7 linked regions of the Homo sapiens genome follow. The protein of the gene in region 7 purifies or fractionates together with the protein of the main gene of each other region. This does not show direct contact. Each region holds a gene or a part of one and is shown on either strand. Other genes may lie near its edges. The genes, in order: ST7L, ETFA, LAPTM4A, NTPCR, ABCB8, ATP2C1 and SLCO4C1.

Region 1 (3,500 bases), on a different chromosome or scaffold from region 7:
CATACTGAGACCTCATCTCTATTAAAATAATAATAATAATAATTGTATTTGGCTTTGTAAATTTTCCTTTCCTAATTATGTATCATTAAAAATATTTGCTTTCTAGCTGGCCAGGCTCAGTGGCTCACGCCTGTAATCCTAGCACTTTGGGAAGCCGAGGCAGACAGATCACCTGAGGTCGGGAGTTCAAGACCAGCCTGGCCAACATGGTGAAACCCATCTCTACTAAAAATACAAAAATTAGCTGGGTGCAGTGGTACATGCCTGTTATTTCAGCTACTTGGGAGGCTGAGGAAGGAGAATCACTTGAACCCAGGAGGCAGAGGTCGCAGTGAGCTGAGATTGCACCACTGCACTCTAGCCTGGGCTACAGAGACTTCGTCTCAAAAAAAAAAAAAAATGCTGGGTATGGTGGCTCACGCCTGTAATCCCAGAACTTTAGGAGGCCAAGGTGGGCAGATCATGAGGTCAAGAGATTGAGACCATCCTGGCCAATATGGTGAAACCCCATCTCTACTAAAAATACAAAATATTAGCCAGGCATGGTGGTGCATGCCTGTAGTCCCAGCTACTCGGGAGGCTGAGGCAGGAGAATCATTTGAACTTGGAAGGAGAGGTTGCAGTGAGCCGAGATCGCACCACTGCACTCCAGCCTGGCAACAGACAAGATTCTGTCTCTAACTAAATAAATAAATAAATTTGCGATTACTCGACACAAATAGAGGAACAGTCTACAATAAAAGTATGACAATGGAATATCCATCCATGAAGAGCTGAGACTTTGATGCCTTTTTAAGTATACTGAAAAAAATTTTTTTTCCTACTTTTCTCTCTTGGCAGAGATGGCTGTTTCTGTTCTCTCCTTTATTAGTCATAAGATTCCCTGATTTGCTGGGCGTATATATATATATACACTGAGAAAATGATGAAAATTTCTAGCCTTCCTTATAGCTAGTAATGGCCATATGAAACAGACCTGACCAGTAGGAAGTAAGGTGAAATAGTATGTAACATTTCTGAGAATAGTCCTTGGCTTCTGTGGGGTGGAGTAGAGGGAAGTAGTGACCTTACCCCGGATTTCTTTCCTTCCTACTGATTGGAATGTGGATATGATGGCTGAAGCAAGAGCAACAGTCTTACACGACAAAGTAAAAACTACATTTGGAGATGGCAGGCTAACAAAATAGAAGGGGTCTGGGTATCTGATGATTATTGTTTTCCATACTAGCCATGGACTAACTATATTAACATGAAAGACAAATTTCTGTGTCTTGGTCCATTTGGACTGCTATAACAAAATATCACAAACTGCGTAGATTATAAACAGTATAAATTTATTTTTAACAGTTCTGGAGGCTGGGAAGTCTATGACCAAGGTACCAACAAATTTGGTGTCTGGTGAGGGTCTGCTTTCTGGTTCACAGACGGCGCCTTCTCGTGGTGTCCTCCCACGGTAGAAGTGGCAAGCAGCTCTCTGGGGTCTCTCATAAGGGCATTCATCACATCCCTGAGGGCACTGCCCTCATGACCTGATCACCTCCCAAAGACCCTACCTCGTAACATCACATTGGTGATTAGAATTTTGGGGGAAACACAAACATGCACACCACAGCACTCTGCTGTTTTGAGTTTTCTATCTCCCAGAGCCAAACTCAATCTTAAATACACAGCTCTGAAAACACATTAGAAAAGTAGTCACCTGACAAATTCTGTCTGCTGGTTTCATTTTCTCTGTTCCTCGAAGGAGAACCTGGTTCTGAAATGCTGCTCTCTGTTCCTCCCATCAGTGGTTGCAAATGGCTTACAGATACTTGCTCAATAAAAGATGTGCCATGCTTATGGAAGTACCACCATTCAAATATCTATGACAAACAGAAAATATCCTGCACTTAGAATCGATCAGCAGATACATGAGCTCAAATTAAAACATTCTCTCAAGATGTCCTGTTCAATTCAGCATTTTAAATGCACTCTCCTTTCAAAAAGAAAAAAACATACAAACACAAGATTCACCAATAACATGTCACGTAAAAGTGAAATACATTTTTTATAGTTCCGTCATAAAATTTAGACAAGCTTAAGCAAAACTAGGCATATGTAATAAAGCATTAAAAACAGAAAGAAGCATTTTAATCTATAAGTAATTTAACTCTGTTAAGTTACATTGTCATTTTATTCTATCTGCAGCATAAACAGTTTTCAAATAATAAGCATAGTGGATGAACAGACTAGACTAGCATCAGCATGCCCATGTTTTAACTCCCAAATCAGTCATTTATTAGCTGTGTGCTGTGGGCAAGTCACTTAATCTCTTAATATCTCAGAGCCTCAGCTAAATGTGGTTAACAAGAATTATAAGAAAGTGCTTTCTGAAGCAAAAAGTACTACTCTGGTATTTGGCAAAATTATTAATAAAGGTTAAGGTCAAGTTGATTCCCATATTGAACCATTTAAAAATCAGGATATTCATTTCTTTCTATTTCCATGGTTTATCACTGATATAAAAAGAGAAACCAGGCCAGACACGGTGGTTCACGTCTGTAATTCCAGCACTTTGGGAGGCCAAGAAGTCCCAAAAGAGGGATCCTCAAGAAGAATCGCTTGAGCCCAAGAATTCTAGACCAGCCTGGACAAAACAGTGAGACCTCATCTCTACAGAAAAATATAAAAATAAAATATTAGCTGGGTGAGGTGGTGCATGCCTGCAGTTCCAGCTACTCAGGAAGTTGAAGTGGGAGGATCTCTTGAGCCCAAGGAGGTCAAGGCTGCAGTGAGCTGAGATTGCACCACTGCCCTCCAGCCTGGGCAATAGAGTGAGACCCTGTCTCAAAAAAAAAAAAAAAAAAAAAAAAAGTCACCTGACAGACTAGTCTTCTGCCAAATGTAGTGGATACATGTATTACTTTAAAGAATAAACAAAGCATATGCACAACTAAGAGATTTTAATCTTTTTATTTCCTTTTTTTAAAATGTTTTGAGATAGGATCCCACTGTCACCAGGCTGGAGTACAGTGGCATGATCACAGCTCACTGAAACCTTGACCTCCCTGGGCTCAGGTGATCATCCCACCTCAGCCTCCCGTGTAGCTAGGACTACAGGCATGTGCCACCATGCCCAGCTAATTTTTATGTTTTTTGTAGGGACAAGGTTTTGCCATGTTGCCCAGGCTGGTCTCAAATTCCTGGGCTTAAGCGCTCTGCCCTCCTTGGCCTCACAAAGTGCTAGGATTATGGGTGTAAGCTACCATGACCGGCCAGATTATAATATTTTTGAAAACTATTTTACTATGACCACAAACAGAACCCATCACAAAAAAATCAGCATTTTCAAATCTGTAGGAATGTTATTTTTTTGCTTCAGTAAATAACAGAACAAATATGCTACATAGGTGCCAAAAGTATAGTCATGTTGGGGCCCGCTGACTACATGCCACAACGTTTATAGGAAAGTGTGAGAAAATCATGGTGCAGCATTTTTTCTATCATGTCACTAATGTTTT
Region 2 (3,500 bases), on a different chromosome or scaffold from region 7:
GCAGCAGAGGCTGCAGTGAGTCGAGATGGCGCCACTGCACTCCAGCCTGGGCAACAGTGAGACTCTGTCTCAAAAAAAAAAAAGAAAGAAAGAAAGAAAGAAAATCCTCCGCTCTATTACTTTATCACTCAGTAACAATAGTTTAAGGCACCTCAGTGTGCAAACATAATTTCACAGATATCCTTTCAGTGTTTTCCAGTCCTCTAACAAGATTAAACCTCTCCCAAACACCCTCTATGTTCTGTAACAATGACCACACTTAAAATAATGTGTTTCTTCCTTAATCTGTTTGCATCACAAGGGCAGGGACTAGGTCTGTCTTGTTCTCCACTGTGAACTTGGTATCTACCTCTCTGGCACACAGTTGGCACTCAATGAATAGTAACTAAATGAAAACTTTTCTTAAAATTATCAAAAACTAAAAAGCAACTGTTTCCTCATTGATAATGTAATCAACTAAACATGTATAAGGGTAACTAAACAGTACATAAACTGTTACATCACTAAAACAGACACACCATCATGCTTTTAGAGAAGTTCTCTATACTCTGTTTAGACTTGGTTGCAAATAGCAAAATATGAAGTTTTCTTTCTCATGCCAGCCACATACCCATATAAAGTTGACTGGCCTTTATAAGATAGTATACTTCTTGTGGGCAGGATTTAAAGAGGTTATCACCCTCTCTGCACCCTTTCAAAGCTAAATTTCTTGAAAATAATTTCCACAGACACCAACTCTTATTACCTCACCTTCCATTTTTTCAGTTACTCATGCAAACTGGCTTTCACCTTCACAACACTGAATCCAATCTTTCCAAAGTCACCAAAAACTTCATTATGGCTAAGTCCAATGAACACATTTTGGTCCTTCTCTTTTTCAACCTCAATAGTTGTTTTTTTTTTTTTCTTGTGGGGGTGGGTATTTGTTTGAGACTGGGTCTTGCTTGCTATGTTGCTCAGGCTGGTCTCCTGGACTCAAGTGATCCTCCTGCCTCAGCCACATGAGTAGCTGTGACTACAGGCACATGACACTGTGCCCAGCATCAGCCTCATTTTTGACATTGTTTTTGCTTGTCAGTTTTTTAGAGTTCTTGCTGTGACTTGAACTGTATATTCACATAGTAAAGTACCACAGATGGTAGAAGAAGAAAAAAAGCTGGAATCTAACTCTCTACCCTTACAAACCCACTCATAACCTAAAGTAGTAAGAATGATTGTAACCTATACCTCCACCCCAACCATCTTTGGAAACTAGGTGTAATGAGGGTATAGAGGGCAGGGGAGGGTTTTTTTGCTTCTTTTTTTTTTTTTTTTTGAGACAGAGTCTCGCTCAGTCGCCCAGACTGCAGTGCAGTGGCGCGATCTCAGCTCACTCCAACCTCCGCCTCCTGGGTTCAAGCAATTCTCCTGCCTCAGCCTCCTAAGTAGCTGGGATTACAGGCACGCACCACCACACCCAGCTAATTTTTGTATTTTTAGTAGAGACGGGTTTCACCATGTTGGTCAGGCTAATCTCAAACTCCTGACCTCGTGATCCACCCACCTCAGCCTCCCAAAGTGCTGGGATTACAGACATGAGCCACTGCACCCAGCCGGTTTTTTTGCTTCTTAATTAAAAAAAGAAAAACAGCAAGAATAAGCTATAAAATCTTTCTGAGTCATACCCAAAAGGATAATATATAAAGTCACCTATCCCTATTTTAACATACATTTTGTAATTTTTAAAATGTATATTTCTGTACTTTAAATACTTCCTTTAATCCTTTTAGTAATAAAATATAGCAGCTTTTAATCATGACCAGAAATGTTATATGACATTGACTGTAATACTAAAAACACAGTCAATTTACTTCACTTTAAGAAAGGACAAGACTCTTAGTAGACACATTGGCAGGCATCATAATTTTACTGAATTCACCTTATGCAATAAATTTTCTTTTAGAATCACACCAAAATTGGCTCTCTTTCTTCTTTCAATAGAAATTAAAATTTGCATGCAAATTACAGAGTTCAATCTTATTCATCAATACTAGACAGAAAAGTGTCATGTTCCTTCACACCAGTTTCATAGCTTCTCAGTCCTGATAGATATTCCTTCCCACCTGACAATAAACACAGTAAAAAGAGTACTCAAATGACCTTGAAATTGTTGTTTCACTCACCACATAAATATTTTTCTGCATCTTCTTATTCTTCAATAAATCAATTTCAAGAGCAAATTAATAAATAACAATAATTAGGATTAATATCCCTGCAAGAATATTAACTAACTGCAAATGCCTACCTATTTGCCTCTTGGTGTGTTCTCTAGCTCTTTATTATAGATATAAAAACTATCTTTGTTAACAGATGACTTTAAAGACCATTGCCACACACATAAGGATGAAAGACTTTACTCAATGGCACAAATCAGTCAGAACTAAAAATGGAACTTAGATACCAAATGCAAGTCATTGAACTTATATCCTAATAGTTTAACAAAGTGGTTTAAAAGAATACATAAAATTTACCATCTTAACCTTTTTTTTTTTTTTTGAAACAGCGTCTCACTCTGTTGCCCAGGCCGGAGGGCAGTGGTGCTACCTGGGCTCAATGCAGCCTCAAATGCCCAGGTTCAAGCAAGTCTCGTGCCTCAGCCTCCCAAGTAGCTGGGACTACAGGTGTGAACCATGGCGCCTGGCTAATTTTTTTTTTGGTAGAGATGGGGTTTCGCCATGTTGCGCAGGCTGGTCTCGAACTCCTGAGCTCAGGTGATCCATCTGCCTCAGCCTCCCAAAGTGCTGGGATTACAGGTGTCAGCCACCATGGTTGGCCCCATCTTAACCATTTTTAAGTGTTAAGTGTTAACTATATGCACATCGTTAACAGTTTATGGTAATCTTTTAACTGTAATTCCTAACTTTATTTTTTTAAATATGGTTTTGGAAATGTATCCTCTTCCTAAATGCATTAATGGTTAGCTACAGAACATTTTTTTTTTAATTTCAAGAGTGGGGACTTGAGATAAGCTATTTTGACTTTGTGATATCACAAACATATATATGTAAACAAACAGGAGTCAGATTGAATGGGCCCCACTTTACAAACATGAGACAACTTCAGCATAAGGTAGAAATGTATTATCCTAAATAAGGATCCATGTATCCATAAATCCATAAATATGCAAGAAGATAATGTTCTTCCTTATAGTAGAATAACTAAAAAATGTACGAAGGTATCATGGAAATAGAAAATCACCATTTTGCATCATAGTAATCATTTCTCAGGCAAAAATCATCAACAGATGCTAAGACTGGGTAAAAGTCTGATGAGAAATAGGACAGTCACATAGTCTCAATGAATCGCCTCACAAATTAGTTAAAAATTACAAAAGGAGGAGTATTAACTTGACAGTGGAGAAACCTGGCAAACAACACTTTGGCTAAGTAACTAAAGTCAGCATTACCACTAATGGGATAAACCAACATTAAGTACCTGCTAATATGATGCACGGGGAACAC
Region 3 (3,500 bases), on a different chromosome or scaffold from region 7:
TGGAGCTTCAATTCAGGTCAACCCACTGTGCTGCAGAAGAAATTCTGGGTTTGTGAACCTTGGGAATTTTAACAGATTTTCAATACAAATCATGAACCCCTTTTCAAAAACATAAAAAGTAGGTCCTTTCACTCAGAGAAGGATCCTGACAGTTACAACCATTCCTTGGAAACACAACAGAAACCATTCCCTAGAAGCTATCTCTGCTCATGTGCCAGAATAAACACTGTCCCCACAAATCCTCAATCTCCTGTGACTTGTAAGGTGAAAGGCAGCAAAAAGGTTTAGATTCACAGTGTCAATCTCAGTCACCCCTAAAGATTTAGTCAGCAACGTACCTTAAAAATGATGAATAAGGCAAAGAACACAAGAACAATGAACAGGAGGCAGCTGGAGTCCAAGGCCAGGAGGTCATCTTTGTAGGGAAAATCAGGCTATTAAAGAAACACACACACATTTACAAGTCAGCCATCGCACTAGCACTTGCTGATAACCTGAAGAGCATCTGAAGAATACAAAGGCACCAAAGTCAAAAGTGATATTTAATAAAAATGTATAAGCAGAATTTAATTCAAAGTGCTTTTAAATTTTAAGCCTTATCACCATTAATGCATGCTAACAATCACTTAGAGTACATTTGATAACCCACAATGCTCCAAAAAGTCTAAATTTAGCTCGTTTTCTCTTTACTTTTCACTATTTTCCATCTTTCTGGCCTTTGGAAAAACACTATCGCCTATATGGCACTGGAGATCAGTCCCTGTGTCACTTGCATCATTAACTCAGGAGATGCTCAGTTCTGTGTAAGTTCTACAGATAAACTGGGCCATTTTAATGCTACAAGGGGAAAATTATTTTTCTAAATGTCAATCGTTTGTCTCAACTCTCATCAGACAGGGGCAAAAATACACCCACTGGTTACAATGTCAGGCAAGACATAAGTTTTACTGCAGACATACTCTGTTCTACTGAAAAGCATCAGCTATATTCATTTAAATACTTAATCAGCCCTGACTGTGTACAAGGCAATGAGCTAAGTTCAGGGAGAAAGGTGTTATAAAAGAAGAATTTCAGATTTAAAAACTAACCAACAGAGGAAATACCTTCCAGTCTGAGGCACTAAGTGAACAAAACAGAGGAGAGAAAACACCAGGGTCTCTAAAAGGAATAATAAATTTTTATCTTCTTTTCTATAAAGCTGATTTAATTTTTTTAAGTTATGCTTGTTTTTAATGGAAATGTCAACAAGAAGGCCTAATTACATTTTCATTTAAAAAGCAACATAAACAGAAATCCCAAAGGACTGAAAAAAATAGAAAAAAAAAATTTTAAGAACACACTACTCCCCAAACCCCAGCCAGGTTGTCTCCTTGGGAAAAAAGCTGTTTTTTTGATCTTCATCTATAAACAAAAAGAAAAACACAGAAGGTGGAGCTCATGAGGGAATGCTATGCTAAGGGTTTTACTCAGAAGGCAGGGAGGCACCACTTGAAATTTCTCCCCCGGAGATGACATGAGCAGAGAGCCACACAGAAGCCGCTGACCGTGGCTGACCAGGCCAACAGCCCTGCCCCTGGCCACCTTTCTCCAGGCTTCCCCACCCTCCCTCTGTGTGCCAGCCACCATGGCCAGCTTCTAGTGCCCTCACTATGCTGCTTCTTGCCTCAAGGTCTCTCTTTTATCTGGAACATTGTCTTCTATACTTTCTCTATCTTAATTCCTGTTCAAACTCCTGAGTACAATTCAAATCTCACTTCCCAGCCCAGGTTTAGTACCCATGTGATATCCACTCCCACAGTAACCTACAATGGTGTATCAGTTAACTGTCAACTTCCTGATTCCTTCACCAGGAAGTAAGCTCCACTGATGCATCTCTATGACCTAGCAGAGTGCCTTGCACATAAGAGCAACCAGCGAATGTTTTCTGAATAAATGAATGATGAATTTGGTGGTGTGGAAAATGGGCTAGGCAGGAAATCTGGTAGTGGGAAGAAAAGTTCTGAAAGACAGCACTTTGGAAATGAACTGAGGATACTCCTGCCAATTTTCATCTACCTAGATCCCATATCTCCTTCTGACCACCTCCACGACGCCCTCCTTGGCCACCCAGCCCAGAGTTTTCCCTGCCCCCCTCCATATGACATTAATCGAAGTTCCTTATTTGCTGCTGCTGTGACAGCTCCCGCTTGTTATCACAGGTAACATCTTCATGTATCTTGACTCCCCAAATATTACAGTTTGCTCGCTAAACTGTAATATTCGCAGTTATCTTTATATCCACACCATTCACCAACAGTGCCTAGCAAAGGGCTAAAAACATAGTAGGCACTGGAATACTTGCTACAGATGTCTGTAAAGACAATAAGCTAGTCACTTAAAGAGTGCCATACACAGTCAAATTACTGTACCTTTGGATGCTCAAAAACAAAAGCTGAACTACTAGTTCCATAATATCCATTTCTAGGAACTCTTAATACTGCATTATCCAAATGGATGGTAAGAAATTACTCTACTTTCATCTTGCCAGTTTTGTCACAGTAGCTAAGAGAGCAGAAATAATTATTTTAAGACACTTTCAAAAGCAAGCGGAGTAGTTAAAAATAATACCTAAGGCTGATTCAGAATTTAAATGTAAACATTTTACTCAAAATGAAAAAAAAATAAGTTTAATGAGCATACACACTTACTAGTTGATCCAGATATTCTTTGATTCTTGGCAAATAGGTGAGAGAACTAATAGCAACCAGGCAACTGAGGACGAAGTCAAAAAGTCGGTAACAGAAGAATGGAATCAGCCAACCCACTTGATACTGGAGAAAAAATAACAACCATAACATTGTATCACATATAGGAAATTACTAAGCTCCCCTAAGGTCAAACTCTAAAAGATGAAAATACAGTATACTTACAGAAATTGCTCCATAAACCAGCATTGAACTGATTATAAACATAAGAACAGAGACGGCAAAAAGAACACAGGCATTATCTAAGAAAACAAAAACAAAAATCTAATTAAGCTACTTACACAACAAAAAGAACAAAACTTCACTTAAAGCTAGCTTTAAAATATTAAATTTAAATATTTTCAAAATTGGCTATAAAAAGATCTAAGGCCAAGAGGGTAAAAAAAAAAAAAAAAAATCAAAGTCTCAGCATGAAGTAAGGAACCTTGAGACATTCACACAAAGCACTTATTTGTTAAATCGCTCCAACGACTCACTGACATGGGTGTAGGATGGCACATGAACCACATTCTCTGCTAGAGAAACAGGTCCCTGTGCCCTTATGAGCCCAGGAATCTGAAGATGTGCAAACAGATCATTATAATCCAATGTGTCAAGTGCTACAACAGAGGCAGAAACAATTTGCTTTGCCTGAAGCATCAGGAAAAAATATGAAGAAATGACACAAGATGGGTCTTATGAGTAGGGTTTAGCTGGAAGGAATGGCTGGCAATTGCTTAAAAGACAAGTGTATTAAACTCAGAATGCTACATACAT
Region 4 (4,300 bases), on a different chromosome or scaffold from region 7:
TTCAACATATATGGACTGCAAAATAAATCAAGGTGGAAGGCCCTACATTAACAGTTGGGATAATAAATAGTATACTGTTATAATAATAGAGCATTACAAATGTTGCAGAAATGATGGTGATGACAGCTATATTTTACAAATCCAACTTTGTTTTTTTAGATAATCATTGGACTGGCATATGTCTCAGGCTAAAGGGAAACCAAGAGGTCCATGTGTGGGCAGAAACCAATTAAGTTGAGCACTCACTGAACTGCTTTCTCAGCCAGGATGGGGAACGACTGACTACAAATTAAGCTGTACACATGTTAGACTGAAAGAGTTTACAGGTAAATGTGGCCCAAGGCCACTGCCACGTCATTCGTTGGCCGGAACACTTGCAGTGGTAAAGTGAGACGGAGAAGCTATTTAATTCTTTGCAAGAGGAGATCTTTATACACTTTGGTGTGAAAGTAAAGAGGGAAAACTGGGCGTCCTATGCATGGCTGAGGACGGGAAGCCTGCCTACACCAGTGGTTCTCAACCCTAGCGCACTTCAGGAACTTCCTGGAGTTTAGAAAGAAGAAAAAAGAATACAGGTGCTCAAGACTCGCTCAAGACCAATTACTCATGTTAAACAAGATTTATGGGAGGCCATTGTTTTGGACTAACCTCCTGCACTAGGTCCTAGCAGACTAGACCAAACCAGAATGGAGTCACTTGTGCCAAGTGCCATGTAACCAAACTGAACTTTGAAACAGGCCCGTTTTCCCAAAAAACAGGAGATTGTAGTTAACCTGAGTCAGTACAATAACGAAGTCCAATCTGTTTTAACCCTATAAGGAAAGTAACTTTGAAATACCCACTCTTTGTTTTGTTCTTCAGCCTTTTTTTGCCCATAAAGCCAACCTCCTCTGCACAACTCATTGGAACACTCTATTTGCTTTATGAAATGATCTATTTCTCGATTCTAGATCCTAAATATAAGCCAATTAGATCTTTAAACTAAACTTGTAATTTTGTCTTCTGACACTCCCTATTACTGCAGGTGAAACCCAGGCATCAGAGCAAGTTTAAAACTCCCCAGCTGATTCTATTCTGCAGGAATGTTTGAGAACAAAGTTGGAGTCATTAACATGGCATCCCCCTTTGAGGAATGCTTCCAGGTCACAAACCTTCTACAAAAGGGCTGTCCCGGCAGCCTTGGGCAATTTCAGCTCCTAGGTCCGGAGTCAAGGGGCAGAACTTGGGTGATGGCGCTGACTTGAAGCAGCAATAGTTTAATAACTGACGTTCTCACGCACTTATCTCTGCAAATACCCCACAAAAGCCCTGAACCCAGAATGAAACTTAAGAGACCGTACAACCCGCTCCGCCTATAGGAACTGCCGCGGCACAGGCGCCAATGCCGAGGGCTGAATGCGCAGGCGCGGACCGGGGACTCGGGAGAAGGCGCATGCGTGGTCTTGAGGGCGGTGCTTCCGGTCAAAGCACCGCTTGGGGGCGGGGCCTGCGACACGCGGTGGGCGGGTCCTGAGTCGCGACCCTGGTCCGGACCTGACCTGAATTGCGACCCCAACCTGGACTGCTCCCCTGACCGCAACCCCTACCCCCGCCCACCAGTATGGCCCGGCACGTGTTCCTAACGGGGCCCCCAGGTAACCCTGAGGGGATCCCCACCTCCAAGAGGTCGAGGGGGTGGGGGCGCGCGGGCTGCGGGCGACCTTGTGCTGTCGGGGAGGGTCTCCGGCTCCAGGGCTCCGGCCTCTGAAGTTCCCAATTTAAATGGCGGGCTTGGTAGTCTGAAGAGTTTGTACTCCTTCCCGGAAAACGTGATTTAAAAGACACAGGGCCTAAAGGATTAGAACACACTTGTGAGGGGGTCCTAGACTGGCTTCTTGATGAAGGGCAGAAACCGCAGGGGCCAGCGGCAGCGGTAACTCCTACTGTAGTGTTGACGTTGTGGTCTGCACAAATGGTATTTCAAGAGATCTGCGGCAACCGCGATGTGAAGTGGAGATGTCTAATTTCTGTTGATAGTCACAGGTATTTCCTTACTGTGGGTCTTTGCTACATTGATCGTGCAAAAAAAAAATGGTAAATTTTAGTTGGAGGACAGCGAAACTGAAGTTGTAACCTTTCTTTCCCATCTAAGTTCATCCCCCCACCCCCATCCCCATCTCCATCCCCACGAATTCCCTCCACAGCTGAGGCCAGAGGTGGAGAAGCTTTGGTACCTACAGGAGCCCTTCTCAGACACTCTTGCTTGTTCCTGTCGCTGTCCCCTCCTGATGTCTGTCAGATCCCTCAACCCTGTGGCCTGTGGAGTTCTCATCTGAGAAGCAGGATAGCGTTGAGGTCAGATGAGAGGTGTAGGAGGAGGTGCTTTTAAACCAAGGCGCTACCCATGTATCAAGCATTACTAAAAAGGACAGGTAGGCTGCATCAGATAGGCTAAAAAAAGATAGATGGGCTAAGAGTGGAGAAAGTGATTTCTTCAGCTCCTTTGCAAGGCAAATCTAATTTTGAAGTTTAGTGTGGGTTCAGATATCAAAGGCTGTAACCCTGGATCTAGAATTCTCTTTCACTTTATTTTAATGATTATGTTTAGTTGTAAGTAGCAAAGGCTACAGCTAATATTGCAGACTTTGGGATTTTGTCAGGCATTGGATGGGGGAGTTGGGGAGCAGGGGGTGAGGAGGAGGAGGGTGGTTTGAGAAATGCCTGCTATCTAAAGTCACTCCTAAGTATTGCAAAGAACTGTTTTCTGAAAGTTGGTTTGTCAATCCTTTATTTGAAACTTGGAATGCAGTTTGATACTCAGCAGGCTGACCCCAAGACAACTGTGTGTTTTATTAATGGAGGTGTCCTGTTACCGTGATTGTATTGATGGTGGTTCTTGTTTCTGCTTTATCAAAGTCTTACCTACACGTAGTTGAAAGACTCAAATAATTCTACAGTGTAGCTCTCTTAAACCTGTCCTCAAACCCACGCACCTTTGTCTTTTCTCCTTCTCTTCTTAATGTAGTTACAGCGTAATTTTCATTAGTCAATGTTTACAGTATTATGGCCATGTAAAGACAATCACAACAGAGCCACATAGTAATCTATGATTTCTTTTCCATTTATTTATTTATTTTAGAGACAGGATCTTGCTTTGTCACCCAGGCTGGAGTGCAGTGAAACAGTTATAGCTCACTGCATTCTCAAACTCCTGGGCTTAAGTGATCCTCCCACTTCAACCTCCTGAATAGCTGGATCTACAAGCGCATGCCACCACACCCGGGTATTTTTTTTTTTTTGTAGAGACCTGTCTCTTGTTATGTTGCCCAGGCTGATCTCCAACTCCTAGCCTCAAGTGATCCTCCCATCTGGGCCTCCCAAAATACTGGGATTATAAGTGTGAGCCACCTTACCCATCTTTTTTTTCCCTCTTCTTATTGAGACAGGGCCTCTCTCTGTTGCCCAGGTTGGAGTGCAGTGGCACAATCTTGGCTCACTGCAACCTCCACCTTCCAGGCTCAAACCATCTTCCCACCTCAGCCTCCCTAGTAGCTAGTACTACAGGCATGCACCACCATGCCCTCTAATTTTTTTTTTTTCCTTTTACACATAACTTTTTTCCCCATTAGGAGTTATTGTCAGGTGTTTTTATTTGCCTAGTTTCTTTCTGTTTTCTCAATATGTTCAGACCATCAGGTAAAGTCTCCTCTCAAAGAGGTCACTTTTTGTTGCATATCCTCTTAGTGCCCCTGGCACTTAGCATTTTTTCCGATTTCCAACTGTCTGTACCCATGACTCATCTTGGAGGGCTTTCTCTGGTCCCTGGAGCCCACTTGGCCTGCAAACAGAGCAGGCCAGAAGAGCCAGGGAATTCCTGTGCCCTGGGATTAGCCTTCAACCTGTGATTGGTGAAAGTTAGTTGATAAATTCCCTACTTTCTCACTCCTCAGACAGGATAACTGAGCCACTTGCCCTGACTTGTCCCTTAGGATTCCCCAGGGGGTTGAAGCTCCAGCTGCCCCCAGTGGAACTTGCTTGACAGTGCACCTCATGCTGGTGTCCTTCCCTTCCCTTTCTGAATTTCTTCCCTGCCAGTCCATCATGTTGTCACTGCCCAGGTTAAACTACCTGCACTTGAATCTTTATCTGAGGATCTGCTTAGGGGAGAACCAGAACCAAAATAATTCCAGAGCTTTCTGATCTGTTTGTGCCTGGTATACAGCTATCATCTCGAGGTCTCCTGAAGCAGAGGTCATTTCTTATCCAGACAGCATTGGGGTAGCAGCTTAACTAATGAAGAAAAAATTAACTGAAAGAAGAT
Region 5 (3,500 bases), on a different chromosome or scaffold from region 7:
GGGTTATGGAGACAGAGTCCATAGAAACATTCTCTTTGCCCCAGAAACTGGAGGGGCCACCATACACAATGGGACAGTCTATCTGGTGGATTAGATTAGGATCTCTTGAAGAATCAGACGTTCAAAGTCAGAGGTGAAGTGAGGATGCAGAGTGGCCCCCAAAAGGGAAGGACAGTTCGACTTCCTACCAAGGGCCCAGAATCCCTCCCCAGGAGTGGGAGTGGGAGGAGCTGGCAGGGCAGGGCGCTGGGAGTTGGGGGCTTGCATTTGCCTTTCTTCTGCACAGGCACTCTCCCTGGCGGACAGCAGGCATGCCCTCTTCATTCACGGCCCTCAAAGGGAAGGGTGGACCCTCGCTGGGCAGTGCCACCTCAAGCAGAGGGAGAACGGCTGCAGCTCAGCACCTCCACTATAGGCTTCTCTAGACCTGGATGCTATGGGATTTGCAGAGAATCTGAGGGATTCCCCATCTGTGTAGACTGCTGTAAATGCGGACAAAGCGTCCCTGCTCTGGGAGACCAGGCAGAGCTGTGGCTGCTCCCACGACAGGGATGCCTCACCCAGACAACAGCTGAGGACATGTGAAGACGGCCAGGGTCTCCCGAGAGCAGCAAGGATGAGGGTGGGAAAGAAAGAAAAGGCACCTGAGGACTAAGGGGGCAGGGCCCAGGGGAGGACGGGCAGTGGGAGCCAAGGGCTGCCCATGTGGCCCCGCACCTGGCTGATGAAGCCGACAACCTGGCCCCGGAGCCAGGAGGGGTCAAGGGTGCGCAGGTCCCGCCCATCCAGCATCACCACGCCTGCCGTGGGGTCGTAGAAGCGCTCCAGCAGGGAAGCCACGGTGGTCTTTCCTGGGGAATTGGGTTGAGAGGGAGGGAGGCCAGGGATTCTAGGGATTGTCCCAGGAAAGAAGGCCCCTTGTGGCAGTGGAGGAAGGGACCCCACCGGGGGCTCACTGCTCCCGGCCTTGCTCTGAGTGGCTGCTAGAGAAGAGTCAGAGGGTGAAGAGGTGGTGGGCTCCCCTTACCTCCGCCAGACTGGCCCACGAGGGCCACGATCTTGCCAGGGGGCAGCGTCAGGGTGAAGTCTTTCAGCACCTCGAAGCCGGGGCGGCAGGGGTAGCTGGGAGGAGCCGAGAGACCCCCAGTCAGACCAGGCTCCCAGCCCTTGTTGCCCGGGTCCCTCCTGAAGTCTCCCTGTAGCCCTCTGAGAGGGCCTGTTTATGGGGGACATTAGTCCAGACCTCCACCCCCGAATCCACTCGCCTCATCCCCGGCCCAGGGACCCATCCCCACGCCTGCTCACCCGTGCTGACCTGAAGCAGACGTTCTGAAATGTAACGGAGCCACGCAGCTGCTCTTTGGGGACGCAGCAGCCCCCAGACAGTGGGATGCAGGGGTTCAGGGCCATGTACTCAAAGACCCGGGCACCTGCACTCAGCCCCCGGACCACCTGTGGGAGGGGATCCAAAGTCCGCAGGGAGGCAGGAGTAGGGGTGACAACAGCATCTCCAGGGAGTGGCCATGGCTCTGGGCTGGGGTCTCCCCAGCTCCTCTGCCCGCCCACACCCAGTCAATAGGCAGCTCCCACAGCGGCACACACGGCACAAACTCCACACCCCAGGCCCTCCACCCTACCGGCCACTCACCTGCCCAAACAGGACAGAGAGGTTGGCCATGGACCTGTCAGAAAAAGGAGAGAGGGGTGGAATAGATGGGAACAAGAAGAGCCAGAGGAGGGGAAGGAAGCCACGGTGGGGCGGGGGAGCAAGGAAGCAGGTGGCCTGTGGCCAAATGCAGAGACTGCTCCTGCACCATGGGGGCGTAGAGCCCTGGGACGTAGCAACACCAGATCGCTGAGCCCTGGCTCCCTCCTTGGCCAGATGAGGATGACAGCTGTCCCTCAGCTCAGCCCAAGCCCCTGGGAGGGGGTGCTCCACGAGGAAATGGAAGTGAAGGCACAGGCCTCTGTGGGTGTCCTCCAGTGCCCTGGCCTGTGGTCTGCAGGGTGAGGCCTGTGCACACATGCAGCGGTGATATCAGCCCACGAGGAAGGGAGCCCAGCTGACCCACGGACTCCCTGCTCGGCCCTGAGGATGCGGAGGCCGCCACCATGAACAGAGATCAAGGGTGCGTGGCTTAGAAGGGGAGAGCAGATCTAATGCTGCAGACTCTTGGGGAAGCAATGACTTTGGCAGACATTTAGGTGGAAGAAGTGATGTTAAATCTTTTTGGAGAAAGAAGAAAACAGAAGACACTGGGCCACAGGGGAACTCTCAGGAGACCCCAAAACAAAATTCCCTGAAAAAAATTTTTCTCATGAGCTTGCCCTGCAGATAAGTATACCCACAGTGTTATCTGTCTAGACAGTGGGTGGCCTCCTTCGTCCCGGCAGGGCCGGGGTAGGGCTGGCCGGCTGCCAGGAGGCTGAGGAGGAAGGTGAGTCACTGGTCCCTGACTGGCCTGGCTGACCTGTGACAGTGTGTGTATGCCTGGTCCCCTCCTAAGTAAGAGGAAAGACTGACTCCCCAGCAACCCTTCAGCTGCAGACTCACTTCTTCCAGCACTAGGGTGGGGGTGAGTGGGAGGAGCCTCGAAACCCAAAAGGAAAAGGTCCCAGTGGACTCAGTGCAGTCAGCACTTGCTAAAGGCAGCCGGGGGAGGCACCAGGCAGGAAGGAGCCAGCCCAGCCAGCTATCTGTTGATGAGCAGGGGCACATTCTCCACCAGAGATCTGGAAGACATTAGGGCCTGGCAAAGGGGCTGGGCAGCAACTGAAATTCAAAATGCACATGACTCATTGGAGTGTGATGACCCTGCTCTCAGGGGCCGTGGGCTGTAGGCTACGGGCCTGTTCCCAGGTGGAGCCTGGCCCTGATTCTGATGAGGCGGCTGGGCCCCACTTGCTGTCTGTCTGGGCACCTCCCCATCTCCATCAGGAGTACTCAGGATGGGCTCATAGGTTAGGCTGCCTGAGGTAGGCCGGGCCATCCTGCTCCCCTCTCTCTGCTAGACCCCAGTGCCAATGCATGGGCCCTTGGCTTAGCTGGCAGGACCCTGTGGGAAACACATCAGCTGCTTTATGCAACAAATCCAAACCCCCAAGATGAGTGGGGAAGAATCTCCACATAGGCAGCGCTAGAAGGACCTCCAAGAGGATGGGTCTAGGGCCTGTGGCTGTGGGAGCAGCCAGCGAAACAGCACAGACAAGCCCCTGGGGGTTCTTGTGTGTGTCATAAAGCTGCTGGATGGCCAAGCAGTACGGTGGGAGGTAAAGTCAGAGTCTCAGGCCCTAAAGGGGAAGTGGGGGTCCCGAAGCGGGAGGGTTGGGGCTGGACAGTGCAGCCACCCTCCCCACAGGGAGACTGTCCCACCACTGCCCACCACAGAGGGCTAAGGGGTGATTTTATTAAGGGAGCCACTGGGCTTCTTTTTTTTTTTTTGAGACGGAGTCTTGCTGTTGCCAGGCTGGGGTGCAGTGGCGCAATCTCAGGTCACTGC
Region 6 (3,500 bases), on a different chromosome or scaffold from region 7:
TTGTTCCAGAAACTAACAAAAAGAGGGAGCATATATTAGACCTTCAAGACCTCTTTAAGTCCTCTAAATCCATGCCACTTTAAAACCTCTTGCTATGTGCTGCTAAGAGTAGCAAGACTCTGCCCACTTCCCTACCTTTTTTTCTCCACTCTTTTAATGCTTTATTAATAGCTGGAAACAAAGCCAACAAACTGGAAGTGATGACATCCCAGAAGTTCAAAAGAGGAAAGAAATGGGTTCACATTTTGTTCACCAACGGTCTTTTTAAAAAATAAATAAGTGCAACTTAGCAAAAGTAAATTTAAAAAGAAAGGGTCAAAGCCCCAGAATCAGGTGAATCAGGGGAGTAACAGGCCCTCTGCACCACAGTCTTCCCAGGATTGTCTCAGTGGAGCTGCCACTGCCCCTTCCGACACAGGCTTTATCAATCCAAACCCTAATTTTGTGGCAGCAAGGCCTCCCTGCAGTGCCCCTTAAGTCTCTGAAACTCCCACTTGCTCTAACGATTATAATCCTGGGTCAAGCCTTAACTGTCATTCTCTTTCCCTAGCTGAGGTGGAAAGTTGAGGAGTGTAAGGGGAACAAAAGTGTTACCCTGAGCCAGAGTATCTGAGCTTCCAAACAGTTTGGTCTGCCAACTGTTCAGAAGGGAGTGACGGTACAATGTACGAGGGCACCCCCTGTGCTCAATTATCCAGAGTGTCAGTTGGCAATTGTACATTTGGCTTGATAAAAACACATCAAAACCCTGTGGTTTCAGAGATCCTGCTATTCTTAGGTCTGGCCCAGGTAAACCAGAAAAGAGATTCCTCCTGCCCCAGAAATGACGCTGGGAGAAAGAATCTGCCTTGGCTTCAGGGGTCCAGAAAGCTTGAGGACTGAGGTGGGGGGATCCAGGGCATGTTCCAGATTCAGGCCTTTGGGATGAAACCCCAGAAACTCTAGAACCTGTCATCAAAGCCTCTTACATTAAAAGGGGAAAGGGGGAAGGAAAAGTTGTTTTCCTTTAAATTTTTTTCCATCCAAAATATCCATTTGCAAAATAACTTCTCAGCCATGAGTCTCTGCCTCCCATTTCCTTGGAGACAGGGGATGAAGTGTTAAGATGGTCACAATACAGCCCATATCCCAGATGAGATGCACCAGGCTCTGGGGGCAGGGGTATGAGGAGTGATCTTGGTTCAGCAGCACAGAAGGTTCAGAGAGAAGGGCAATGGCAGCAGGCTGGGAGCAATGTTCTCTGCTGGTAAGAGTACCTTTCCAAACTTAGTTTATTTTAAGAACAGAAGCCCTATAAATCCATCAAAATGTTTAAAACTCAAAAAAAGCCTTTGCTTAAGTGAACAACAAATAAAAACATTTTTCACATAACTTGTTTTTCTTCCTCCCAGAAATTGTAGTGCTTAGACTCCTATTTCATTAAAATAATAAAATTAAGGAAGCCAACTCTTCCAACTGCTGTGAGAGACTACATAACTACATATATTCTGCAGAAGCCAGATGACTATCCAGAAGGTAAGAATCAGGTTAGGACACCAACCACCAACCCCCGAGTCTTACACATGACATCCCTAGGAGAGGTGGCCTAATGTGTGTGTGTCCAGCAGACCCTCTCCCCATCACTGCTCAGTCAGCAGCATATAAGTAAGCAGAATCTGGGGACTTCTTTACCTCCCTGGTGAACAGTAACAGATCAAGTTAGCAATCACCTTAAAGGATATATTAGAGGCTTCAGACTCAATTTTTAGAAAAGTATTTTTGTCTTTAAAACAAAGTGATAAAAAGAGAGTAACACCATTTTACCTCGATCCATTTCCCTTCTCATAAGATAAACTTGTTTAAAATAAAATTTCTATCAGCTACTCAGAGACCTCTGGAGATCTAAAAGAACCAGTGATTCATATTTTGCTACATTCTCAAATTTCCATCTTTTGAGGGCCAATTAACCAACTAAAACTTAACACCTCAATACTGGCAAGGGTTCTACAAATCCTGGAAGTGAGTTGGACAGCTCAAATGTGAAGCATGAATTCATCTGCAATTAAAAGAAGGCTCTACCTTTCCACCCCAGGGGACTATGCTGAAATAGCCTTACCTCTGAGTCCCGCTGAGCCCATGCGTGCCTTCTCTTGTTGGTACACATCTCTCTGCTGCTGAGTAAGTGTCAAGGTCTGCCCTTTGCTCTGGTATGTAGTACAGTACTTAATTACTTGTTCGTAAGCACCTTTCATAAAACAAATCTCTGGTCTGTCCTAAGAAGAAAATGTACCAAACACAAGTTTAATTTCAACTTGTACTTACCTGCCATTGGAGTCCAAAATTAAGTGGCATTCATTTCTCATAATTCCCAGAGAAGTTACTCAAGCCTAAGGTTTTGACTGCCACCTGAACTCTGAAGATTAAATATTCCTATAGGGGAGCTTTCTGTATCTTCTATAGAAAACATCTATCCCACCATCCCACACATAAAAGGCAATGCTATACTAAGCCCCAAATTTGGCACTCTGAAATGTGGAAAGAGGCTCACTGCAACATAACAGGAAATGGAAGAGAAATAACAGCTCACAATGGTTCAAGTTCTCTATTAGCTACTATATACGTCTATATCTATCTACCTAAAACACCATTTAATTCTCCCAATCACACTGTATTTATGGGTATTATCGCACTTTTTCTTTTATTTTTTGTCATGGTAAATAATCTTCAAAAGCTTATAATGAAATACTGCAGTTTCCTGTTCAACGCTTCTCACCACTAGTCCTACTCCATGGAAGCAAAATAATTTTAACTCTCTTAGCTGTTTTCTCTGATATTTACCCTCATGTTTTTAACATGTTTATACTGCTACTCCATCAGTTATCAATTTTATACACTGTCTATTGTGACAGATGTTAATTTCCCCATTTCCACTATCTATTCCCCCCCTCCCCATCTTTATGATATAGCTAAAGCAAAATCTGCCAGTATTTTGTTTACAACAAGACTCTTTGCTGCTAAGCCAAGTGTGGTAATGACTATAGCAGTTCACAAATATCCCAGTTCTCCTGGGAGGCAGGAATGTATTTCCCTATTGCCGTCCTCACTCCACAACGGTCAGGTATGACTTGCTTTGGCCAATAAACATGAGTACTTGTGTCACTTCCAAATGGAAATGTAGGTGCCAGTGCACAATTTCCTATTCTTCTACCCCTGCTGTGACAGTGTGTGCTCACATTAAAATGGAGCTTCCATCTGCCTGCATTCCCAAGTAACTACAATGAGCAGATATTTGGGGACAGGGAGGCAGCAGGAGAGCATGATGTTGTTTTCATGGCCTATCCTGATTGATAGCTCAAATAGGATACTTCTTTTCCTGTTCAAGTTTTGTCTTTTATAAAGTTAATAACCACCTCTTTAATTTGTTTTCTGTATACCTATCATTCATTCTTCCTAAACTCTTCAATGTAATATAAAACCCTTCTCATGGTATTTTTTCACAACAACAAAGAAGCAGATAAGCT
Region 7 (3,500 bases):
TACAGAGTATGAATTTGAAGAAAGGGGACCAGTTACAATACCCTAGACAGTAGGTGATGACAATATAAAGGAGAGCTAAGATAGAACATATGATGATAGGAAGCAGATTAAAGAAAACTTTTGGATGTAGAATCAGTAAGATTTGGTGATGGATTGGTTGAAGATGACTCTTCCTGTTAAAAATGGAAGAGGCTACTCAAGAGGCTTAGGCAGAAAAATCACTTGAGCCCAGGAGTTTGAGGCTGCAGTGAGTTATGATTGTGCCACTGCACTCTAGCCTGGGCAACAGAGTGAGATCCCATTTCCAAAAAAAAAAAGAATGGAAGAGTCAAAGGTGACTCCTAATATCTAACCTGGTGTTTAGGTACAGGAGAACAATGATGAGTATGGTATTGTAAGTAATAAGATTAAGAGTATCTCCAATTTGGTGGAGAAGAAATCTTGAATGGAGCTAGATTTCTTAATAACCATTTGGACATAGATGTAGCTGAAACCACGAACATTTATAAGATCAGTCATATAGTGTATGGAATGAGAAGGGTACTGAAGTCTTGGGAGTCCACTTATTTAATAAAGACACAATGGACACCAATTATGTGCTAGACTACTCAAGGTGGTAGAATTATATTTAAAAGAAAGAAGGAGCTAGAGTTAGAACTAGAAATGACAGATTGAGGGAGAGAGAGAAATGGATAGAAGGAACGGAATGAGGGAGTGAAGGAGAAAAGGAGAAAGAGGGAGGGAGAGGGAAGAAGGAAGGGAGAAAAGCGAGAAGGAAGGGAAACGGGGAAAGAAGGAAGGGAAGAAGGGAGGAAGGGAAGGGAAAGAGATAAGGAAAGGGAAAGAAGGAAAAGGAAGGGAAGAAGGGAGGGAGGAGGAGAAGCAAACCTCTGCCACCATGAAGCTAACTTCCTTGCATCAGGGGTCAAACACAGTAAATGAGTGATTTCTGTAAGTATTAGAAGATAACCGACACTGTGTTGGAAAATGATGACATACAAAGTAGGCGGAGAACAAGAAAGTCATGAAGAAAACAAATTAAAGAGAAAAAAATGACTAAATCAGTAGGGAGTCTGAAGGAAAGAGTGATCAAGATAGTAATCTGCCACTCTGCCTGCAGTCTCATCTTATTCAAATCTATTCCACAGATGCTGCCAGATTTATCTTTATCAAGTATGATGATAATATCAAGGGTTGATCACATTCACAAAAGCCATCACCAGAGTGTCCGCTCACAGAGCTCATAACATAGATGCAGAAATAAGACAACCAGAGAAAAACCATCCCTGCAACTCTAGAAATAGCCTTTACACAGCAATTTTTAAAGTTCCCAATATATAATTCTCATGTTATTGATAAATAATTACTGAGATCATACAAAGTATAAGACAGCATGATGCAAATTATAGTATTAACAAAGAAATATAGCTTATATTCCTTAATATCAAGGGGTGGTCACATTAGTCTACATATTTTACAAAGGTTTACTTCTTGAGGTAACTAGAAAGCTATTAGTAGAAAAACGGCAGATGCTTGTGAAGTTTATTAAATTTTCTTAGTGTATACATATTTAAAAATATTAAAATATCCTATTTTGAAATGTTTAATAGATTTAAAATATAATAAAATAAATGTGCATATATAAACATCTTTATGTTTGCCACAAGTAGAATTCAAACATTAATTTCTTAAATACAAAGTATTCTATAATTATGCCTCTATAACAGGCTAAAATTTCCCTAAAACTATTGCAAAATATTGATATGCCTCTTTAAGATGCTATTTCATATAATCAATAAAATTCTAGCTAAAGATCAGATACAGAAAAAAATACTGTGTGTATACACTATGGTATTTCTATATTCTATGAGGTTTTAAGTAAAACATGAATCATCATTACCACCACTGATCACCAAAATAAGACTCAAAGTTCCTATAGATTGTCAAGGCAACAAAAGAGCAGTGGGGAACAGTGGGAAAATAAACAGTATTCATGCAATCGAATTTAGTATTGTGCCCAATTAAAGATTTAATAATAAATTACTTTAAAATATTATTGAAAAATATCCTGACCATTATCTCAAGCAAATTAACACAGGCACAGAAAACCAAATACCACATGCTCTCACTTAAAAGTGGGAGCTAATCACTGAGTACTTATGGAATAAAGATGGCAACAATAGACACTGCAGATACAAGAGGGAGAAGAGAAGAAGTGGGGCAAGTGTTGAAAAACTATTAGCCAGGCACAGTGGCTCGCACCTGTAATCCCAGCACTTTGGGAGGCCGAGGCGGGTGGATCACCTGAGGTCAGGAGTTCAAGATCAGCCTGGTCAACATGGTGAAACCCTGTCTCTACTAAAAATACAAAATTTAGCTGCGTGTGATGGCACGCCTATAATCCCAGCTACTCGGGAGGCTGAGGCAGGAGAATTGCTTGAACCCAGGAGGCAGAGGTTGCAGTGAGCTGAGATCGTGCCACTACACTCCAGCCTGGGCGACCAAAGGAGACTCTATCTCAAAAAAAAAAAAAGAAAAGAAAAACTATTCAGTACTATGCTTGGTACCTGGGTAACAGAATCAATCATACCCCAAACCTCAGCATCATATAATATACCCAGGTAACAAATCTGCACATGTACCCCCTGAATCTAAAAGTTGAAATTATTTATATATATATATATCCCCTGATCTTACATTTTTTGGAAATGCTGTTATATTAAACAGGGACTTTCAAAGAACATATCAATGAACCTAATTCATTAATTCATGGATGCAAAATCTCTTTTTACCCATCTGTGCTTACCATGGCAAAAGTCAAAGATTCTTTGCACCCCTCTACTAGAAACCCTACATCCTCAGAACCTCTTCTGTCTCTCACTCCCTGAAAAGGTATTTCTTGAGCTTCTTAGTCTGTTCTTTCCATAGACAGGCTTACCTAGCTTTACTTTACTTTGTTTTATTGTACTTTGCAAATCTTGTGTTTTTTACAAACTGAAGGTTAGTGGCAACCTAGTGATAGTGATAGTATTCAGTAAGTCTATCAAGTGCCATTTTTCCCAGAGTACACGATCAGTTTATGTCTATTTCATATTTTGGTAACCTTGCAAAATTTCAAACTTTTTCATTATCATTTCTGTTATGGTGATCAGTGATTTTTGATGTACTATAATAATTGTTTCAGGACACCATGAACCATGCCCCTTTAAGAAGTAAAATTTAATCAATGAATGATGTGTGTGTTCTGACTGCTCATTATTGTCTTATTTTAAGAAGCTGCCACAACTACCCCAACCTTTGGCAACCACCACCCTGGTCAGTCAGCAGCCATCAACACTGAGGCAAGACTCTCTACCAGCAAAAAAATTACAACTTGCTGAAGGCTCAGATGATTGTCAGCATGTTTCAGCAATAAATAATTTTTAAATTAAGGTATATACATTGTACATTGCTTTTCTAGAAATAAGGTTATTGTATATGTAATAGACTACAGTATAGGG

Evidence for each region.
Region 1: the proteins of SLCO4C1 (region 7) and ST7L purify together in Homo sapiens (affinity purification with mass spectrometry; one large-scale study listed by BioGRID and IntAct). This does not show direct contact.
Region 2: the proteins of SLCO4C1 (region 7) and ETFA purify together in Homo sapiens (affinity purification with mass spectrometry; one large-scale study listed by BioGRID and IntAct). This does not show direct contact.
Region 3: the proteins of SLCO4C1 (region 7) and LAPTM4A purify together in Homo sapiens (affinity purification with mass spectrometry; one large-scale study listed by BioGRID and IntAct). This does not show direct contact.
Region 4: the proteins of SLCO4C1 (region 7) and NTPCR purify together in Homo sapiens (affinity purification with mass spectrometry; one large-scale study listed by BioGRID and IntAct). This does not show direct contact.
Region 5: the proteins of SLCO4C1 (region 7) and ABCB8 purify together in Homo sapiens (affinity purification with mass spectrometry; one large-scale study listed by BioGRID and IntAct). This does not show direct contact.
Region 6: the proteins of SLCO4C1 (region 7) and ATP2C1 purify together in Homo sapiens (affinity purification with mass spectrometry; one large-scale study listed by BioGRID and IntAct). This does not show direct contact.

The regions. Positions count from the first base shown.
Region 1 is NC_000001.11:112,609,142-112,612,641, forward strand, and holds part of ST7L (suppressor of tumorigenicity 7 protein-like), read right to left. Parts: intron 1,863-3,500; coding exon 1,700-1,862; intron 1-1,699.
Region 2 is NC_000015.10:76,304,970-76,308,469, forward strand, and holds part of ETFA (electron transfer flavoprotein subunit alpha, mitochondrial), read right to left. Parts: intron 1-3,500. UniProt on the Homo sapiens protein: Heterodimeric electron transfer flavoprotein that accepts electrons from several mitochondrial dehydrogenases, including acyl-CoA dehydrogenases, glutaryl-CoA and sarcosine dehydrogenase.
Region 3 is NC_000002.12:20,034,629-20,038,128, forward strand, and holds part of LAPTM4A (lysosomal-associated transmembrane protein 4A), read right to left. Parts: intron 2,987-3,500; coding exon 2,910-2,986; intron 2,811-2,909; coding exon 2,688-2,810; intron 435-2,687; coding exon 339-434; intron 1-338. UniProt on the Homo sapiens protein: May function in the transport of nucleosides and/or nucleoside derivatives between the cytosol and the lumen of an intracellular membrane-bound compartment.
Region 4 is NC_000001.11:232,949,111-232,953,410, forward strand, and holds the start of NTPCR (cancer-related nucleoside-triphosphatase), read left to right. Parts: upstream 1-1,500; 5' UTR 1,501-1,600; coding exon 1,601-1,634; exon of another isoform or gene 1,635-2,046; intron 2,047-2,217; exon of another isoform or gene 2,218-2,439; intron 2,440-4,300. UniProt on the Homo sapiens protein: Has nucleotide phosphatase activity towards ATP, GTP, CTP, TTP and UTP. Hydrolyzes nucleoside diphosphates with lower efficiency.
Region 5 is NC_000007.14:151,038,450-151,041,949, reverse strand, and holds part of ABCB8 (mitochondrial potassium channel ATP-binding subunit), read right to left. Parts: intron 1,683-3,500; coding exon 1,649-1,682; intron 1,453-1,648; coding exon 1,316-1,452; intron 1,123-1,315; coding exon 1,028-1,122; intron 852-1,027; coding exon 718-851; intron 1-717. UniProt on the Homo sapiens protein: ATP-binding subunit of the mitochondrial ATP-gated potassium channel (mitoK(ATP)). Together with pore-forming subunit CCDC51/MITOK of the mitoK(ATP) channel, mediates ATP-dependent potassium currents across the mitochondrial inner membrane.
Region 6 is NC_000003.12:130,974,084-130,977,583, reverse strand, and holds part of ATP2C1 (calcium-transporting ATPase type 2C member 1), read right to left. Parts: intron 2,253-3,500; coding exon 2,096-2,252; intron 1-2,095. UniProt on the Homo sapiens protein: ATP-driven pump that supplies the Golgi apparatus with Ca(2+) and Mn(2+) ions, both essential cofactors for processing and trafficking of newly synthesized proteins in the secretory pathway.
Region 7 is NC_000005.10:102,251,285-102,254,784, forward strand, and holds part of SLCO4C1 (solute carrier organic anion transporter family member 4C1), read right to left. Parts: intron 1-3,500. UniProt on the Homo sapiens protein: Mediates the transport of organic anions such as steroids (estrone 3-sulfate, chenodeoxycholate, glycocholate) and thyroid hormones (3,3',5-triiodo-L-thyronine (T3), L-thyroxine (T4)), in the kidney.